Linked DNA regions of Homo sapiens. The protein of the gene in region 3 purifies or fractionates together with the protein of the main gene of each other region. This does not show direct contact. Each region holds a gene or a part of one and is shown on either strand. Other genes may lie near its edges.

Region 1 (3,500 bases), on a different chromosome or scaffold from region 3:
TGCTCCCTGGCTGTGGCGGGCACCTGCGGGTGGGCACCTGCTCACGCCTGCTCCCTGGCGCAGGTCCATCAAGCGCTACTTCCTCATGGACCAGGGCGACTTCTTCGTGCACTTCATGGACCTCGCGGAGGAGGAGCTCCGGAAGCCGGTGGAGGACATCACGCCCCCTCGCCTGGAAGCGCTCCTGGAGCTGGCGCTGCGCATGAGCACGGCCAACACTGACCCCTTCAAGGACGACCTCAAGGTGGGTGGGGGTGCCGGGGGCTGTCCCCTGTGGCAGAGGCCTCGGAGGGGCTGGGAGGAGAGCACAGCAGAGGCCAGCCCTGTCCCCCACTCCCCGTCCCGGTGAGGCGACCGCAGGGTCTGTTTCCTTCACTTGGCTACCGGGGCCGGCTTGCCGGGATCGGGGGTCTTTGTGCCTGTGCTCTGGAGGGGCGCGGGTCTCGGGTTTTCCTGCAGTGCCCTCGTCCGGGCCTGGCTTTCAGGTCATGCTGGCCTTGTGGAATTGTTTTCACGTGTCCCTCCATCTGTCTTTTGAAAGGGTTTCAGGTCTTTTGAAAGGGTTTCAGGAGTGGTGTTAATTCTTTTTGTTTTTGCCTTTTTGTTGTCGTTGTTTTTTGTTTTTTTTTTTGAGACGGAGTTTTGCTCTTGTCACCCAGGCTGGAGTGCAGTGGCATGATCTCAGCTCACTGCAGCCTCCACCTCCTGGGTTCAAGTGATGCTCTACCTCAGCCTCCCGAGTAGCTGGGATTACAGGTGCGCGCCACCACGCCCAGCTAATTTTTGTATTTTTAGTAGAGATGGGGTTTCACCATGTTTCCCAGGCTGGTCTTGAACTCTTGACCTCAGGTGATCCACCCACCTTGGCCTCCCAAAGTGCTGGGATTACAGGCATGAGCCACCGTGCCCAGCCGTTTTTTAAAATATATATATGTTTTATCTGTTTTTTACTATTTTTAATAGAGACGGGGGTCTGTGTTGCCCAGGCTGGTTGAACCCCTGGGCTCAAGCGATCCTTCACCTGCGCCTCCCCAGGAGGGTGTTGATTCTTTGGCTGTTTGGCAGGGTTTGCCTGGGAGCTCTTGGGCCCTGGGTTTGTCTTTGTTGGAGACTTTTGAGGGGGACTTGGCCCCTTGCTGGCCACAGGTCTGCTCAGTCCCTTTCCTCTTGGTCGGCTGTCTGTCTCGCATCTTGTCTGGTGCACAGTTCATGGGTTTCTAGTATCTGCTTTTTATTTCTGTAAGATTAGTAGTTATATCCCTTCTTTTTCTGATTTTAGTAATTTGAATCTTCTTTCGTCTTAGCTGATGTAGCTAGAAATTTGTCGATTTCATTATCTTTTCAAAGAACCAACTCTTGGGTTTGTTGACTGTATTTTTCTGTTTTCTCTCTTCTGTCATCTTTGTTACTCCTGTCTGCTGCTTAGGGGTTCAGTGTGGTCTTCTTTTTTCTAGTTTCTTAATTTGAAAAGTTAGTTTACAGCTGTAAACATCCCTCCGAGTGCAGCCTTCGCTGATCCCCTAGCGTCATAATTTCTGTTTGTCTGGAGGTGTTTCTGATTCCCTCTGATTTCTTGTTGGAGCCGTGGGTGGTTTATGTTTAACTTCCACATGTTTGTGAAGTTTCTGGTTTTCCTTCTGTTGCTTGTTTCTAACTTTATCTCCTTGTTAGAGAACAGACTTTTTGTGATTTCAGTTTTGTGAAATGTATTGATTTGTGTAGTGGCCCCACATCCATCCTGGAGAGTGTTCCGTGCGCGCGGGAGGAGGATGTGCCCTCGGTTCCGTGCGCGCGGGAGGAGGACGCGCCCTCGGTGCTGTTGGGGTGGTGTTCTGCAGGTGGGTTGAGGCCGTGTCTTTCCTCACTGATCGTCTGTCCGGCGGTTCTCTCCGTGGTTAGAAGTAGGGCACCGAGTCTCCCTGTCACTGAAGAACTGCTTTTCTCCTTGTCATTCTGTCTATTCTTGATTCAGATATTTTGGGGTCTCTTGTTAGGAGCAGGAATATTTTCGTAGGAAAAATTCCTGGTAGTGAAATTGTTGGGTCACAATACATGGCCCTTGTATGACTAGGCTGACCTTGCTGGAGTTGATGGAGTCCAGTCTCAGGACGCTGCTGTCTGCACACCTGCGAAAGCTCCCACCTTGGCTATTTGATGGACAAGTGATGTCAGGGGCTCATTTCTGCGTTTGTGATGGTCACGATTTCGTCTGTCCGCTGCTTGTTTCTTCTTGCTTTATCCCCTGCCCTTCATTTCCTGTCCTGTCGTTGTGCGATGGTTTTGTAGGAACTCTGTTGCGGGTGGTTGGAACTTAGCAAATACTCGAGTGATTAACGTGAGGACAGTATTACTTGCTTATAATAACTATTATGTCCCTCGTCAAATATGCTTCATTTTTCAACCTGGGCCTGGTGCTTATCATGGTACAAAGGTTTTCGTCCTAAGGAATCACGTTTCTTTCACCGTCCTTAGCGGTTTTTCCCTTATACCACCCACAGCAGCAGTGGGTATTTACAAAGTAATTCATCTGAATTTTTGTTGTTTTGTTCTGATGGGAAGTGGTTCAGTTTTGAATTTGATTTATCAGTAGATGTTTGGGTTTTTGAAAAGCCTCTGATATTTAGAATCGGAATGTAGGGAACCTTACGTCAGCGCTGGGTCTGTGAGCGAGGATGGCGATCGGGATGCGACTTCGGGTCTTTTCCTTAAAACTGGATGCTTTGTTTCATTTCCTTCCCTCCAAGATCGACCTGATGCCCCATGACCTCATCACTCAGCTCTTGCGCGTCCTGGCCATCGAGACCAAGCAGGAGAAGGCGATGGCGCACGCCGACCCCACGGAGCTGGCGCTGAGCGGCCTGGAGGCCTTCTCTTTCGACTACATCGTCAAGTGGCCCCTTTCGCTCATCATCAACAGGTGCGGGTCGGCTGCTCGGGCACCTGCCAGATCTTCACTCAGGTTTGGCAGAAGCGAGAACTGTGCCACGCGGTGGCCACCTCGTCCCACAGAGGACCCAAGGCGGCTCTCCCCGGCCTTCAGTGTCCGAGAGATTCACGGGCTGTCCGGGGGCCACGGTGCGGACTGTGGAGTACAGACGCCGTGTCCACGACGCCGCCGGTCACGGAGGCCCACCTGAGGTGCCGCCACGTCTCTTGCAGGAAAGCCCTCACTCGCTACCAGATGCTCTTCAGGCACATGTTCTACTGCAAGCACGTGGAGCGGCAGCTCTGCAGCGTCTGGATCAGCAACAAAACCGCCAAGCAGCACTCGCTGCACTCCGCCCAGTGGTGCGTTCTTCCTCTGCCCCCGCATGCCCTCCTGAAGCAGCGCTCGCTGCACTCTGCCCAGTGGTGCAGCGCCCCCCTTGTGCCCTCCTGGTAGACAGCTTTCTAGGCTTCTGGAAGTGTCATCTGGAAGCGCACGTTGGTGGCTTTAGATCCATAATGCTTCATTGCTTCATTTTCCTGTCTTGGGGCTGCACGGCGCTGCCGTCCACCCC
Region 2 (3,500 bases), on a different chromosome or scaffold from region 3:
ACCTTGGGCAAAACATAGAATTAAAAGAAAACTTCAGACAAGTTAAATTTGATGGAGTTTAATTGAGCAAAGAAAAAAAATGATCCACAAATTGGGCAGTCTCCAGAATCACCGCAGATTCAGAGAGACTCCAGGGGTGCCTCGTGGTCAGAACAAATTTATAGACAGAAAAGGTAAAGTGACCTACAGGAATCAGAATTGAGACATAGAAACAGTGAGATTGGTTACAGCTCGGCGTTTGCCTTATTTGAACGCAGTTTGAACACTCAGCAGTCTATGAGTGGTTGAAGTATGGCCGCTGGGATTGGCCAACACTCAGCTGTTATTACAGATGCATACTACTAAGTTAGGTTTTCGATTTTGTCTGCCTATTTGAGCTAGGTTACAGTTCGTCCACAAGGACTCAAATATAAAAGTACGGAGTCCTCTTCGGGCCATATTTAGTTCGCTTTAACAATTCCCCCTTTTGGTCAGCCCCTCAATTTAGAGAGATTGACCAAAACTTTAGGCGTTGACACCACTCTCTGTCACCATCATAAAGACTTATTTGGTCTCAGTGTGGAACTCACAAGTCGTCTTTAGTTTCAGTATGGAGTCTCACACATCTTCTTTGGTGTTAATAGGGAATTCACAAGTTGCAACTTTGTACCAGCTAAATGATTCTTTATGTTCTTGCTGATCCAGTTGGAGTAAGACCATTCAACTGTCAATGTACAGCTGCATACAAAACATTTAAGACTTGAGAGTATACAGTGCACCAAGGGGACTATTATTATGACTGTTAAGAGGACACCGTCAAAATGCTAAGGTGTACTCCTTAATAAAAGTTCTTATGAAATGAACTGAACCAAATCAGCCAAGTTAAGGTTCAGACAATATAAGCAGTTCAGCAGTATTGGGGTCTGATTGGTCAGAGTCTTCAGTTGGAGTATGATAGTGATTAAGGATCATAGTTCGCTGTAAAGTAGCTTGACTTAAAGAGGTGCTCGTTTTCATTGTTACCTTGTTAATACAAGTCATAATAACTTGAAAACCTGCTAGAAGAGATATAAAGATTAGAAACCCTTGGAAAACCCAAGCTTGCCATTCACCACTTAGGATGCCTGCAAACCAACTGTTAGTTGCTCCTATAAACATATCGTGGGTTCCTTTCTCTTGAGAGATTTCTTTATTGTACTTGGTGGCAGTGTCTAAGGAAACAGCAGTATCAGCCACCTTTTAAATTAAGCTTTTTGTAGTAACAGAATCAGGGGAGGGATTAGTACAAAATTCAGTTTTGTTTAACACCAAACATAGGCCTCCAGCTTGAGCAAAAAGAAGATCTAAGACTGCATGATCTTCCATTAAGTGTTTTCGTTGAATATGTATGTTGTCATGTGCCTTTCTGAGAGTAGCTTCTACCCATCTGAAACCCTGGGAGGTCTGATTGGCTACCAAATCCAAGAATTTTCCCAATATACAAATTAGTTTTAAATTCCGTACAAATGGTACTTCACTACCACCAAGAGTGAGCCCCCAGGAACCCCAGTGGAATCTTTCCCCGGTAGAAACTAGCTTATCCTCGTCTATTTCGAGGCTAGTGCTAATTTCAGTTATTGATCATTTTGGCCTCCAAGTATAAGGGCTATCATGAGAATTTTCAGGGGAAGCAATTCGAAAGGCAGGAGCAGGCCAGGCCAGATAACAAGAACCAAACCAACCAAGGAGGCAGAACAGAATATGCAGATTCTCCACAGACCCAATAGAGACCCTCAGGGGTTGGAAAAGGGGGCCACCTAGTTGTATTTGAGCAGGGATCATTCAGGTTTGTTCGACCATGAATCTGTAGCTCCTGAATAACATCCAGTGGGAAATTTACTTTTCTATGGCCCCTTTGTAGTGTGTTGTAAGGGTGTATAACCACATCTAGTAAAAAGAGACCCTACTGGATATACAAGCAATCACTTGTACTAACATAAGTAATTCCCAAATCTTGAGTATGTGATGCCTGCAAGCACAATATACGTTTTGTAGGCATCATTTGGATTTGTTTTTTATATTTGGTGTGATCGACTTTATCAGTTGAAAAAGAGTGTTGTTTTTAGTGAGTGTAGGAAAGCAAGTACTAGTGATGTTTAGAGTATCAAGAATAGCTTTCCATTCTTCCCTTGGGGTTTCAGGGTGACTCATTGGGAAACGTGGAGGGGCACTGGCACCCTTGGAATCATTTCCTGATTTTTTGGCATTAGCCCACAAACCCAACAGTTACCCTGGTTTTGTGCTAGAGCATAAGCTTGAGCTGAAGCCATCCACTGATTATGGTCCCATGGATTTTCATGTAAGGAAAAGGAAAGGATTAGGGAAAAAAATAAGGAAAACAGAAAAACACATAAGGCTTTCATGGTGGTAGAGAAGTCTTGATCTGTGATCTAGGGAAAGCTGTCTGTAACCAGGATGCTGTCTGCTTCTGGGAAGAGATTTCCCTGGTCAGCTTTACCTTAAAGTCTCCAACGGGTATATAGTACCAGGAGTCTGAGGGGGCCCTTTTGAATTGTGAGATGTGGACCCATGGTTCAAAGCCCTGAAGCTTCTCTGCACTGTGGGTGGTAAGAAGGACTTGGTATGGTCCCATCCAACGAGGTTCAAGAGTGATCTTCTTCTGATGTCATTTCCGGAAGGCCCAGTCTCCAAATTCCAGACCATGGAGGGTTTGATTGTCCTCAGTTGGTGGATCTTGAAATGCTTCCTTTACCTGGTGGAAGTATACTTTGGCGTAATACATTAAAGCCTTGCAGTATTTAGTCATATCAGAGTTTAAGAGAGCAGGAGAAGCATGAGATGCTATTATTAGGGACATGGGCCTCCCAGTGACTATTTCATAAGGGGTCAATTTATGTTTTCCAACAGGATTGAATCTGATTGCCATTAAAACCAAAAGGTAGTACCTTTGGCCAAGGCAACTCAATTGATTCAGTTAACTTGGACAGTTTCAGTTTTCAAATGCCATTTGTTCTTTCAAGCTTTCCTGAAGACTGAGGGTAATAAGGACAATGGTAATGCAACTGTGTCAGTAACACCTTATTTAACTGCTTTATAACTTGCTCAGTAAAATGAGTTCCTCTATCACTGGAGACTTTTAGAGGGATCCCCCATAAAGGAAAAACATTTTCTAATAATTTCTTAGCTATGGTCACAGCATCAGCTTTCCTACATGGGAAGGCCTTTATCCAACCAGAAAACATGCAAACTATTACAAGAACATACTGATACCCCATTGAGGGTGGTAACTGAATGAAGTCCATCTGTAAATGTTCAAATGGTCCATCAGGTGGTGGAAATATACTGCCTCTAGTTTTTCTGGGATTATGAGTTTGACAAGTCAAACATTGATTATAAGCCATTTTAGTAATGTCAGAATAGTCACCCCACCAGTATTTTTTCATAATTTGGATCACTTTGTCTGTTCCATGATGAGCTGTGGAGAGCTTTCAATAATGGAAGCTTCAAAGATTCAGGAAGGA
Region 3 (3,500 bases):
GCTATTCTTCCTGATGCTCTCTCTCACCCAACAGCTCCCAACAGACTCCAATGTTTCTTGTTTCTCACCATGTGTCCATGTGTTCCCATCATTCAGCTCCCACTTATAAGTGAGAACATGTGGTGTTTGGTTTTCCATTCCTGCATTAGATTGCTAAGGATAATGGCTTCCAACTCCATCCATGTCCCTGCAAAGGAAATGATCTCATTCTTTTTATGGCTGTATAGTATTTAGAGACACACTTTGTAAGTGAATCCTGTTATTTCAGAGATGGTGGCTGATTTTTCTGCTTTTCTTATTAGGTTAAAACTCTATGCTGGTCATTCCCTTCAGGATTTGGCACTCACCAACATACCCTTCTTTCAAGTGAAAAGGCATCTCTTTTAATGGTCCTGACCTTTGGAATAGGAAGCATGTACCCTGGACAGAGCACTTCAAACTAGAGGTACCAAGAGTAATTACTTCTGTAAGGCTGGCATTGGAGGCACTGGGAATTCTATTCTCACCTCTTTCTGGGTAATTCAAAGCCACAGAAGTACTGACTGAAGTGAGGTTGTGGGGACATGTATGCCACCTTGAAGTGCATTAAAGAATGGATATAAAGTGAGGAAAAGAAAAAAACTGGTGTAAACAACTATGGAGAGAAGGGCAGGAAGGCAACAAAGAGCTAGAATAAGGTGCGTAGACAAGAAAATTACTTTGGGAGTTGGAGAGACTTGATGAAAAAGCTCTAGCTGAGAGTGTAGAAAACCATGATTTTCTAGGAGTGAAAGGGAACAATCAATGAAAGAGAATCCTGAGGGAGGTTAGAAGAGTGTGATAATTCATCTTGAGCAGCAGGAAGGACAGCTGTGTTGGGAAGTAAGAAGAGTGCTGCTATAAATAAAATTATGCGTGTTAGAAAAGGACAATAGATGAAGTTGATTTCTTCTCACCTAATAATCTCAATTTACTCTTTGAGCTGAGGGCTAAAACAAATAGTCTTCCGAGAAAAGTGGTGGATGGGGAGCAGGAGAGAGAGGAAGAAGCTTTAGCAGAATAGAAAAGGGGCTGATTAGCCACCATGGGAATAGGAGAAGATACTAATCAGGTTCATGCAAAAAGAGGGTAGAGGAAAATAATTTTAGACTGGAGATCATTAATTTCCATTTGTGCCATTTCAAATACACACTAGTATTTCAACAGGATAATTGAGCCATTTGGATAGTAAGAAAGAAAACCTGTTGTGGACTTAACCTGCGATTAGGGCCTTGCCAGGCTGGTGTAGCAGGAGAATGGAGAACAAAGAAGTTGTGTATTCTTGTGTAAGAGTGGATAATTTGGCCAACTATTTAATCTGGGTTAGACACAGGAGGAAATAAGATGAGGGAGGATGCTATGTGAGACTAGGAGAAATGGAAGCATTTAGATATTGAAGGTTTCTGGAAATGTATGGTGCAAGTTAGTATAGTGCAATTTGTAGTGAAGCTCAGTCATTATGTTAGAGAAAGAAAACCATTTGAAGAGTTAGGAATTGATGAGGGTTGGCAGATAGTACAAAATTGAAAAATACTGGAATAAGAAATAGGTTAATGGATTCAGATTATCAGCAGAAGTGAATGCTGTTAGTTGCTGCATATGAAGTTGCTTTGGAAAAGTGCAAAACTGCGATACCTTTTTTATATCATTTCATGTTTTATAAATGAAATCATCTTTGACTCCTCAAGCAGTCTTCAAAATTGCTCAATTCCATATCTGACTTTTACTTTAAATTCTAATCTAATAGGGTGACCAACTATTCCCTTTGCTTTGGACTGTCACAGGTTTAGCACTGAAAATACTATGTCCCAAAAAACCCTCAGTCACAGGCAAACCTCAACTGTTGGTCTTCCTACATACTCCCAAAGTGATTTGGATTCCCTGTGTCCCATTTCTTCAATTCATCTTCCACATGGTTGCCAGCGTGACCTTTCTATTTTTTATGTATTCATTTTTAAAGTATTATTTATTTTTGAGATGGGGTCTTGCTCTATCACCCAGGCTGGAGTGTAGTGGTGCAATCTCAACTCACTGCAACATCTGTCTCCCCGGCTCAAGCGATCCTCCCACCTCAGCCTCCTGAGTGGCTGGGACCACATAGGCGTGCCACCGCACCCAGCTAATTTTTTTGTTTTATATTTTTTTGTAGAGATGAGGTTTCACCATGTTACCGAGGCTGGTCTTAAACTCTTGAGCTCAAGCGATCCACCCACCTGGGCATCCCAATGTGCTGGGTTTACAGGTGTGAGCCACCACACCTGGCCAGCAGCCTGATCTTTCTAAAACACAAGTATGATGATATCGCATCTCTTCACAGAATCCTTTGATGATTCATCATGAAGTGCATTAAAAATATTTCATTAAAAATCTTTCATGACCCGGTAACTTCTACCTTTATAGTCTCTTTTCCCTTTCACTACCTTCCTTCAATCATACCTCCCATTTCACCCTCCCCACCATGTTATCCTATTCACCAGGTGGGATAGAATTATTATTTTTCCTTTAGATATATCATTCATTTTTATACTTTGGAAACCTTGGATGTTATTTATCCATCCCTGGAAACCTTTCCGATCTTTTCTTCTCCAAAATCCTGCCCATTCCCAAAACTGCTTATTAAAAAATTGACTTCCAATCTTTCCATTCTATGCAGGCTTTATTTCTGCTTCCACAGAAATGTCTTTGTTACCTCTTTCATGAAATGTTTCTGAAATCCGTTATGGTTAGTTACTTATGGCTATCACATGTGACTGTAAACTTATTGAAGGCAACAACCATGGATTATTTTTCTCTGGAATTTCCCATTCCACTCCATCATCCTTTGCAATTAGCATATAGGACACCCACATAGCAGAATGTCTACTTGGATGAAATCACAAACTGTTAAGATTCAGATGAATTATACTAATAATAACCAGTAAAAACGGTCATGCTTATGGAGAATTTTTGAAGAGATCAACTTGACCTCACCTTTGAAAGGTCACTAGGATTTAAAGAGAACAATCGATAATTCAGACAAAGTGAGGTTAACTTTAAGTTTATCTCTTCCCCAGCCACCCTCTTTATTTTTCTCTCCATCAGCGGCAGAAAACGGGGACGGGGTGGAGAGAAAAATAAAGATGGTGATGAGGTAAGAGATAAAGTTAAAGTTTACCTCACATTTCCTAAAGTATCCATTGTTCTATTTAAATCCTATATGTTATCTTTAGCAGCTAAAATAGTACTGGTATCTCTCCTAATTAATTCACAGGAATGATGCTGTGCCAACACTGAGGGATTCTCATCACCTGTGCCATTCACTTCAATTGTTGCTATTCACTGATTGTGATGTTAGAGATTTTTAAATGTTACCCCTATGGGGACCATAGGCTCTTGGCCCTCTCAAGGTTGCTACAAAATCACTGGCATGAGGCAGATTGATTAACATGAGATAAGGAATTACAATTTATTTAAAGTATATACACATGAGCCTTCAGAATGAA
Region 4 (4,188 bases), on a different chromosome or scaffold from region 3:
CCCAGGAACATTTCACATTTCCATTGGCCAAGGAATGCTGGTGGGGGTAGCTGGAGGCCCCAGTTGGGAGGTCCTGTCCAGTGAGGTGGAACAGGATCAGGGGCCTGCTTACAGAAGCAGTCTGGCCATGATTTGGTAAAGCAGCTATGCTGTGCTGTGGGATCTCTTCTGTCCCTCGTCGGTTTGTACTCTCCAAAGCCCGCAGGCTGGAATGACTACGTTGCCTGAACGGGAAAGATGGCGGCCTGCCCCGTCTTTTCTCTCAGAGTTTTATCTTGTTTCGTGGAGCTTAATTTTTAGCCTGTTGATTTTACTGTCTTCATTAGACTTGTTGAGAAAGAATCTGTTCTCTTTTAGGTGAGATAAATGAGAATTCATTGTCTTCTGTAAATAAACCTGTTCATGTCTTGTTCTCTGGAAAGAAGTCTCTTTCAGCTATCTGACTTTGGTCACAATCATGTAGAGCAGCAGCCAGTCTACAATGACGTAATTGAATTTCCATTTCCAGTGTTTCCTCGTTGTGTCTTACATTGTCCAGTTCAGAACTGAGCATTTTATTCTCAGTTGTCAACATGCTAAGCTGTCCACTGTACTGAAATACTGTGCTTCCTCAATTTGTTTTAAGGTGTGCACTTTTATCCAACTCTCCTCAAGTCAGAGTACAGGTAAGCCCTGGCTGCCTCCAGCCACTCTCAGGGAGACCAAAAGCCTTCATACACCCCAAGTTGGGGTACAAAAGAGGGGGGCCACGAAGGCTGATCATTCAAAATAAAACAAAATTAAAAAGTATTAAGGCGAAGATTCAAAAAATTTTGCATTATGTAATTTGCACAAAAGCAATGCTATCACCTCCCCTGTGTGAACTAGGGAGAGGACTGGGCCATTCTCCTTAGAGAGAAGTGGGGTGGCTTTTAGCAGGGCAAGGGGCTTCCTGAAACAATGCGTCTCACAATATTTGGAATGACTATTGAAAAGAAGAACAAGGTACAATCAAAGTCCTTGGCCACATTGTAGAACTTTGGAGGAAGCTTCCTCCAACCGACTGCTGTCACCTTCACCATTCCGGTTTTTAAATCCTGAGTCAAGCCAATAAAAAACAAAACAAAAAATGAAACAAGAAAACAAATAAAGCCATGCCAATCTCATGTTGTTTTCTGAGAAGTTTGGTTTTGTCAAGAAAGGGTGTAACGCAACTAAGTCAGAGTCCACCTACAAGCATTTGCGGTGGACAATGGAGGGGCCTGACTCATCATACTCCTGCTTGCTGATCCACATCTGCTGGAAGGTGGACAGCGAGGCCAGGATGGAGCCACCGACCCACACGGAGTACTTGCGCTTGGGAGGAGCAATGATCCTGATCTTCATCATGCTAGGCGCCAGGGCAGCGATCTCCTTCTGCATTCTGTGGGCCATGCCAGGGTACATGGTGGTGCCGCCAGACAGCACTGTGTTGGTGTACAGGTCTTTGCGGATGTCCACATCAGACTTCATGATGGAGTTGAAGGTAGTTTCATGGATGCCACAGGATTCCATGCCCAGGAAGCAAGGCTGGAAGAGCGCCTCGGGGCAGCGGAACCGCTCGTTGCCGATGGTGATGACCTGGCCATCGGGCAGCTCGTAGCTCTTCTCTAGGGAGGAGCTGGAGGCCACCGTGGCCATCTCCTGCTCGAAGTCCAGGGCAACATAGCACAGCTTCTCTTTGATGTCACGCACGATTTCCCGCTCGGCCATGGTGGTGAACCTATAGCCATGCTCGGTGAGGATCTTCATGAGGTAGTCAGGCAGTTCCCGCCCAGCCAGGTCTAGGCGCAGGGTGGCATGGGGGAGGGCATTCCCCTCATAGATGGGCACAGTGTGGGTGACCCCGTCACCAGAGTCCATCACGATGCCAGTAGTACGGCCAGAGGTGTACAGGGACAGCACAGCCTGGATGGCCACGTACATGGCTGGGGTGTTGAAGGTCTCAAACATGATCTGGGTCATCTTCTCGCGGTTGGCCTTAGGGTTCAGGGTGGCCTCGGTCAGCAGGACGGGGTGCTCCTCGGGAGCCACACGCAGCTCGTTGTAGAAGGTGTGGTGCCAGATCTTCTCCATGTCATCCCAGTTGGTGATGATGCCGTGTTCCATGGGGTACTTCAGGGTCAGGATGCCTCTTTTGCTCTGGGCCTCCTTGCCCACATAGGACTCTTTCTGATGCATGCCCCCCATCATGCCCTGCTGCCTGGGGCGCCCCACGATGGAAGGGAAGACAGCCCGGGGGGCATCGTCGCCCGCAAAGCCGGCCTTGCACATGCCAGAGCCGTTGTCAATGACGAGCACAGCGGTATCATCATCCATGGTGAGCTCATTCAATTGTAGAGCCTTTAAAAGATTATCATTCCTTTTTTTCACACTTTCAATATCCTCCAAATATTTCTTTTCTCTTAGCTGGCTCTGATGTTTCATTGTGTCTAGCTCCAGTCTTAGCATGGCAATTTCTTCCCGCAACGTACTATTTTCATGCAAGATGTCTTTTTCTTTCTTACAACTAAGAGAAAGCTAAGTAAACAAAGAGAACTTTTAGTTAGCACTCAATAGATTGACATATCATGATTTCTTCTGAAATTCAAAAATAACATGTATTTGTATAATGAAAGAATCCCCATAGTGGATATTTAACTGGAAAAAAATTGGACAAAACTTCAAACCTAATAAGAGTGTAAATTCCTCCAGTGATTTATTTTTCATCGTCTTTAAATAAATATTTAAACTTTTAGGAATCTGCTCCTAAATTCCTAAAAGTTTAAATATTTATTTAAAGACGATGAAAAATAAATCACTAGAGGATTTTTAAGAATCCCAGAATTAAAAAAAGCCTTTTTTCTGAGTTACAAAAAACCCAGAGGCATAAAATATAAGATTAATAATTTGACTACATTTTTAAGATTAGGTTTACACTCTGATATCTAACCTATCAACCACACCATCCTAAGAGCCTTAGCTATGCATATATTTGGACAGAAGCAATTTCTCAAAGTTCTTTAAGTTTCTTTTACTTAAGAACGTTTTACCGATATTCTACATTTCTAATATTTCTATACTCAGTTATAAGAATTACATTTATTTATAACTGTCAAATAAGCACTGTACCCTTCTACACTGTACACATCTGTATCTAGGCATTGCTCTTCTACATATAATACTGAACTCATTTAAGATCGCGATTCTTAAAAGGAGAGGTCAAAAAATATACACAGATGCAGGATTTTCCCCAGGTCTGCTGATGCTACTTCTAGTGATCCTCCACAAAACCACACTTACTTCTGTGGTGTAAATATATAAATACAAAAGAAACCTTTTGTTTCAAAATATGAATGGTAAATAAGATACAACTTATAGAGATTTTCTTAGAAATCATGAGATTATTTGCCATTGCGGTAACTTTTATTTCCTCTTTATAATGTTTGAAACAGTAGTAATGGTGAAATAGGGGAAATATACTGAACTATTTCTCCAGAAAGAAAATACTTATCAATAAATTATTACTAAATGTGTATCATGGCATGTCATTCTTTTCAAACCTCTTTACATTGAAATGAGAAACTACTTGGAGCAAACTGTTCCTCTCTGCAAAAGTAAGGATAATGGTATCCACAATGTGGCCTCTGACCCAGCTATACATTTCCTACTTTCTTATCAGTAAAAATAATCAATTGACTTCTCTATTAACATTTTTTAAAAAACTAATGTCCAAAAACGAGAAAATCTGTTTTCAGTAGCAAAACTTATTTCTGATGTGGAAAGATCATCAATTCTTATGAAAAATATCAAATACTTCTCCTTTGGATTGAGGCCATTGTGCAGGTCACTACTCAACTGTTGCAGGCAAATGAAGGTGAATTAAGAACATGGCTTTATCCTATACGTACGTATATAGATATATGACAAAGGATATATAGAATATATACACACATATATATGACTTAAAAATCCTTTATATTTCCAAAATACAGTTCTTTAAAATATACACACATATAAAAACATTTGAAAATAACTAAAGAAAATACCTCAGAATTCATTTTTTCAACCACTTCTATCTGCTTTTCTTCATGAATCAGAATCTCATCGTGTAATATTCCAGTGTTCTGTTCTTCACAAAATTGCTTCTGAGTATCATTTTGTTCGTCACTAGAAGAAATTTTAATTTTC

What was found. Proteins that work in one complex are often made in the same cells at the same time.
Region 1: the proteins of P2RY10 (region 3) and TUBGCP2 purify together in Homo sapiens (affinity purification with mass spectrometry; one large-scale study listed by BioGRID and IntAct). This does not show direct contact.
Region 2: the proteins of P2RY10 (region 3) and OPA1 purify together in Homo sapiens (affinity purification with mass spectrometry; one large-scale study listed by BioGRID and IntAct). This does not show direct contact.
Region 4: the proteins of P2RY10 (region 3) and POTEF purify together in Homo sapiens (affinity purification with mass spectrometry; one large-scale study listed by BioGRID and IntAct). This does not show direct contact.

The regions. Positions count from the first base shown.
Region 1 is NC_000010.11:133,284,873-133,288,372, reverse strand, and holds part of TUBGCP2 (gamma-tubulin complex component 2), read left to right. Parts: intron 1-63; coding exon 64-244; intron 245-2,744; coding exon 2,745-2,917; intron 2,918-3,159; coding exon 3,160-3,288; intron 3,289-3,500. UniProt on the Homo sapiens protein: Component of the gamma-tubulin ring complex (gTuRC) which mediates microtubule nucleation.
Region 2 is NC_000003.12:193,599,708-193,603,207, forward strand, and holds part of OPA1 (dynamin-like GTPase OPA1, mitochondrial), read left to right. Parts: intron 1-3,500. UniProt on the Homo sapiens protein: Dynamin-related GTPase that is essential for normal mitochondrial morphology by mediating fusion of the mitochondrial inner membranes, regulating cristae morphology and maintaining respiratory chain function.
Region 3 is NC_000023.11:78,951,891-78,955,390, forward strand, and holds part of P2RY10 (putative P2Y purinoceptor 10), read left to right. Parts: intron 1-302; 5' UTR 303-445; intron 446-3,500. UniProt on the Homo sapiens protein: Putative receptor for purines coupled to G-proteins.
Region 4 is NC_000002.12:130,073,035-130,077,222, forward strand, and holds the end of POTEF (POTE ankyrin domain family member F), read right to left. Parts: intron 4,168-4,188; coding exon 4,047-4,167; intron 2,539-4,046; coding exon 1,210-2,538; 3' UTR 501-1,209; downstream 1-500.